2 linked regions of the Homo sapiens genome follow. The protein of the gene in region 2 purifies or fractionates together with the protein of the main gene of each other region. This does not show direct contact. Each region holds a gene or a part of one and is shown on either strand. Other genes may lie near its edges.

Region 1 (3,011 bases), on a different chromosome or scaffold from region 2:
TTAATCTATAAATTTTCCCCTCCTTTTTAAAGTCGTCTCCACGTTTTTCCAGCACTCTTTTTCTCACTGGTTCCCTGATACGAAAAAGAGGGAGCAAGGGGAAGATGTCATAAAATAAAAACAATAGTAATACAAGCTGTTTCCAACTTCCATCAGTACAGGCAACTAAGTTTTACTTTTAATGCCATCTAAAGTAAGGAAAGTCCATGGGAGACCATTATATCTACTAACACAGTACTAGACTTTAGCAGTCTTTGGTAGTTTAGCTTCATCTGATCTCTAAGTCAAGCCAGCCAGCCAAATCATATATTCCATTTCCATTGTGTTTCTTAGTGACTTAATAAGCATTAGAGGAGTGTGACCATTTGCCAACTAATCTTTCCTTTGTTATTTATGCAAGCCGACATTATCTACTAAAACATTTGTAACTTAGCACCCTAGAGACTATCCAAAGCTCCAGTCAGCTTGACAGAAAGGGTCAATTTTAAATCCTTCGCAAAATCTTCAAGAATGACTTATTTATAAACAATTAAGAATGAAGAGGACTTCCTATTCTGAAAATACAAAGGTATAAGGATAAAATTTAAGCCAACAGACTTTTATAACTCTAGAGGGGAGAGAAAAAAGGAAAAATAATGGTGGAACACAAAGCTTCACCCTCTCTTTGACACACCTTTTATTCCATCCTTTGCTCTAATCTAAGACCTTTCTCTTATTTGAAAAAAGTGTTGTTTTTTGTTCTTTTTTGAGACAGGGTGTCCCCTCTGTTGCCCAGGCTAGAGTGCAGTGGCACGATCACGGTTCACTACAGCCTCAAAACTCTGGAGCTCACACAATCCTCCTGCCCCAGCTTCCCAGGCAGCTGAAACTATAGGCACACGCTATCACACACAGCTCACTAAAAGTTTTTTTTGTAGAGATGGAGCCTCACTATGTTGCCCAGGCTGGTCTCAAACTTCTGGCCTCAAGTGATCCTTGCACCTCAGCTTCCCAAAGAGCTGGGATTACAAGTATGAGGTACCACACCCAGCCTGAAAAAAGTTTTAAAAATCCATACAACGAGCTCTCCTATATTACAGTAATTCAGTATTAAATGCTCCCACCCATTGCTCAGTAAGAGTTTTAAGATTCAGCCTTGTTTGAGCTTCCCTCTGTCCTCACTACAGTAACGTACTTAGTAGGTAACTGGTCTTCCTGCCTAACAGTTATGAAATAAGATAAAGGACAAAGCAGCCCAATCACAATACTTATATGTCATTACCTATGGAATCCATAAACACATGACTAGGGCTTCTCCATACTGAGGGCAGAGAAAAAAGAATTTCTATTACTTATCACATAGGACTGGCATGAAGATTTGTTATAATGCCTATAAAAGGCCTCATAGAGTGCTTAACAGCGGTGTCCATTTCAGTAAGTTACATTATTATGTAATTATTAGAAAGGGGCATAAACTTACTTTCTAGGAAAATACTTCCCATTAACCTGTTTCAAGTATATAAAATCTTAACAAAGATAGGAGTTAAAATTGTCAGTGTTGTATTACTATGCTAACCATTGCATGCTATCTGCTATAAAAGTTGTTTTGTTTTTGTTTTGAGACAGGATCTCACTCTTACTCTGTCACCCAGGCTGGAGTGCAATGGCACAATCTTGGCTCACTGCAGCCTCAATCTCCCGGGCTCAAGTGATCTTCCCATCTCAGCCTCCCAAGTAGCTGGGACCACAGACATGTGCCTGGCAAATTTTTAAATTGTTTTTGTACAGACAAGGTCTCACTATATTGCCCAGGCTAGTCTTGAATGCATAAGCTCAAGTAATTCTCTCGCCTCAGCCTCCCAAAGTGCTGGGATTACAGGCGTGAGCCACTGCATCAGGCCCTGGTCTCTTGGTTAAGGGATTAGTCCAAAATAATTCTCTGAGAGAGAATTTTCAAAGCAATAACCTGTTTCCACAATTTGGTCCTTCTCTGAATGATCCAGACAAGGCTGTCAGCCGGTAGATAAAAGAACCAACAGGGTTAAAATGATCAAAACAGAGTAGTTCACCTACAGTAATTATGCAAGATGACCCTGAACGATTAATGCAATGAACTATCTTGTCAAGCAAACATGGTTAGCAAGAAAGAGGTTACTAGAAAAAAAAATCTGCCTTGATAGTTATGGGGTAAAGAAACTTCAATGAATGAAACAATAAACCAGTAGAGGTGAAGCTGCTTTCCAAAAAATTGGTTTTATAAAGCTGGCTGAGAAAACGCAGGTAGTGAGCTCTGCAGTAGAGATGATGTAATAAAGTTTCAGAGCATCGGAGTTTTTCTCCTCCACCGTGGGAACTGGAGAGGACATATACAGAAAGGCAAAGTACTCAACTTTTTACTTAAAAAAGATACTGGGCATGACTTACATATTTTATAAATGGGGAAAACACACACAGATACCTTTTTTCTGATTTGCTAGATGATGCAGGGTTTGGGGGTTCTGACGATGTTACTCTCACTGAAGTCTGTGTGGGAGGCGGATTACTAAACAAGAAATTGCTAATTAATCTCCAGATGGCAAGGAATGGATAAAGCACTGTTCCCAACAAGGTCCAAATGTCTCCGCTGGAAGAGTGTACAATGGATGCAGTTGGTCTTCCTGCCTAGAAATTAATAAACAAACCTAGATAAAGACTACGTTAGCACAATCACATCACGCCCAAGGTTCCAGATGAAACTTTTATCTGGAAAAGGAGGTCCTACCAATTTTAGTTTACTTCAAGAGGGTAAAATGATATCTTTTGCTGTTTTTCACGTATATATAAACTTCTGAAGACTCCCAGAAGTTTTTAAAGATAAATATACAATATTATACAATTGTATATAATTGTATAATAACTGTATAATTGTATAGTATACAATTATTTTATATATTATATATATTATATTTTATATAATATATTATAATTATAAAATTATTTTATATAATTATTTTATATAATAATTGTATATAATTGTATAATATTGTATATTA
Region 2 (2,681 bases):
CATGTTGTCCAGGTTGGTCGCGAACTCCTGGGCTCAAGCGATCCTCCCACCTTGGCCTCTCAAAGTGCTAGGATTACAGGCTTGAGCCACCGTGCCCGGCCATCCTGGGGTCTTTCAACAAATTGATAACTGGTAGCTACTATGATCTCAGATTTCAGGTTTCTCAAAGATTCTGTTTCTTGTTTCGTAAGATTCTGAAATGCTGATGTTCCAAAATTCTGAGATGGTTTGTTTCTAACGTTCTGCATTTCTAAGTCTTTGACCACTGAGGGTGTCTGTCAGGCGCGGCTTCCTATGCCCTCTGCCCCCAGGTTCTCCCAACCTCTGGGACTGGGAAGGAGGGCAGTGGGTGGAGGGGGCTGGGCCATTGCCTTGACATGGCCCACATTCAGGGCTGGCTGTGGCAGCCCAGGGCCCCAGAGCCAGGCTGGAACTAGGATACCAGCCTCCAGGTCCCAGGCCTGCGTCATCTCTGCGTGCCCTCGGCCAGGGCCACCAGACAGAGACGGGCTGGTTGAGTCATCCAAGGGCTGGGGGTGGGGCAGGCTGTTCCGGCCGGCTCCTGGCTGGCAAGGCAGGAGTCCTACGCCCAGCTCTGCCCCTAACATGCCCCGTGCCCTTGGGCAAGCCTCAGCATCAGGGCTGCCACGCGTTCGGTGGTGCTCGAAGCCCTTCAGCGTCAGGGTCAGTCCTTGGGAGGGGGGCTGTGGTCAGGCTGGTGGGCTGGGCTAGCAGTGGCAGGACAGGAGGAGAGCAATTGCCTCTGGTGGAATTAATTACTCTTTTATTAGCACAAAATAACAGCAACCTAGCAGCCGCACGGCCCGAGAATAAGTTAAGGCACAGAGCAGGCGACGGGCGGCTTTCCCAGGGCCAGGCCTGCATGCCCCGAACTTCCTGAGCAAACTCCCTAGGGGCTGGGGTTTCGAGGGTCCTGGAGGGCCTCTTCCCTTGAGATGAGGGGAACGGAACAGGGCAAGAGGGGCGCCCCCATGGGCGCAAGGGGTCCACGCTGCGCCGCGATCACTTCTCGAAGTAGGGCAGGTAGAAGAACTGGAAGCCCCGGTGGCCCTTGACCGCGCAGTAGATGAAGATCACGTGATAGACTGCGGGGCGGGGCCTGTCAGCGCAGAAGCCCCGCCCCTCCCCGCAACACCGCCCCCAGTGCCGCCCCACAGCCCCCGCCCCTTCCGCCCCGGTGCCCGCTCGCACCTCCAGGCACCAACAACAGGAAGCCCGGCACGAAGAAGATGGCGCTGGAGACACCTGCGGGAGGGACCAGAGCCCGGTCAGGGCGAGGGGGCGGAGGCTTCGAGGCCTTCCGGGCTGCCGCTGACTGCCCGGGCAAGCCTCACTCCCAGCTGAAAAGGAGCCGTGTACTGCCGGGAGGTGGGAGGGCTTGCCGTGGACCCGTGGACACAAGACAGGGGTGTCCTCTGCCTGTGGGGGCGGGAGGGTCGCTCACCTGGAGAGGGGGTCGCCTCCAGTCCCACGCCGACCAGGATCAGCACTGCACACAGACGGAGCCGCGGGGGTGGGGGCAGGAGCAGTGGTGAGGGCGGGGGCTCCCACCCCCAGCCCGGCTCACCCACCACCTGAGCTGAAGGTGCCCTAGGCAGAGACCCTCCCCAGGAAGCTCACCAAGCTCTGTTTCCAGAGCAAGGCACTGAGCAGGCCCTGGGAAGTGTGTGAAAGGAGAGATTTTTCTTTGTTCCTTGGGGTGGGCTTTTAGTCATTCAGCAAACATTTATGGAACACCTACTGCGTGCCTGGTACTGGGAATTCCGCCCTGAAGGGCAGATAAGGTCCCTGCCCTCATGGCCCGTCCTTAGTGGAGGAACCAATAAGAACCTGAAAGCTAACAGTACAGGTGATTGGGATATAGGGGGTAAGAACAGGGCAGTGCAGGAGTCCTGGGTCCCCAGTTAGAAGAGTGATGGGGGAATGAGGAGCTGGACTTTGGGCTCTGCAACAAGGGGGGTAGTAAGCCTGGGGGACTGGGGGGCCACCATGGACTGCTTTGTGCATTGCCCAGACTACTTCAAAAAGGGTGGGCCAGGTGTGGTGGCTCATGCCTGTAATCCCAGTGCTTCAGGGAGCCAAGGCAGGAAGATCGCTTGAGGCCAGGAGTTTGAAGCCAGCCTGGGCAACATACCAAGATCCCCATCTCTATAAAAGGTTAAAAAAAAATTAGCCCAGCCCAGGCGTGGTGACTCATGGCTGTAATCCTAGCACTTTGGGAGGCTGAGGCAGGAGGATCACTTGAGTTCAGGAGTTCAAGACCAGCCTGGGCAACATAGTGAGACCTTGTCTCTATTATTATTTTAAAAAAAAAAAAATTAGCTGAGCATGGTGGTACATGCCTGTAGTCCCAGCTACTAGGGAGGCTCAGCTGGGAGGATGGCTTGAGTCCAAGAGTTTGAGGCTGCAGTGATCATACCACAGCTCTCCAGCTTGGGCAACAGAACAAGACCCTGTCTCTAAAAAATAAAAAGGGCTGGGCGTGGTGGCTCACGCCTGTAATCCCAACACTTTGGGAAGCTGAGGTGGGTGGATCACCTGAGGCCAACATGGTGAAACCCCATCTCTACTAAAAAAATACAAAAAATTAGCCAGGTGTGGTGGCGCGCGCCTGTAATCCCAGCTACTCTGGAGGCTAAGGCATGAAAATCCCTTGAACC

The links. Proteins that work in one complex are often made in the same cells at the same time.
Region 1: the proteins of TMEM134 (region 2) and UBXN4 purify together in Homo sapiens (affinity purification with mass spectrometry; one large-scale study listed by BioGRID and IntAct). This does not show direct contact.

What each region holds. Positions count from the first base shown.
Region 1 is NC_000002.12:135,779,812-135,782,822, reverse strand, and holds part of UBXN4 (UBX domain-containing protein 4), read right to left. Parts: intron 2,641-3,011; coding exon 2,438-2,640; intron 75-2,437; coding exon 1-74. UniProt on the Homo sapiens protein: Involved in endoplasmic reticulum-associated protein degradation (ERAD). Acts as a platform to recruit both UBQLN1 and VCP to the ER during ERAD.
Region 2 is NC_000011.10:67,463,591-67,466,271, forward strand, and holds part of TMEM134 (transmembrane protein 134), read right to left. Parts: exon of another isoform or gene 1,684-2,681; intron 1,678-1,683; exon of another isoform or gene 1,511-1,677; coding exon 1,466-1,510; intron 1,267-1,465; coding exon 1,213-1,266; intron 1,107-1,212; coding exon 1,024-1,106; 3' UTR 1-1,023.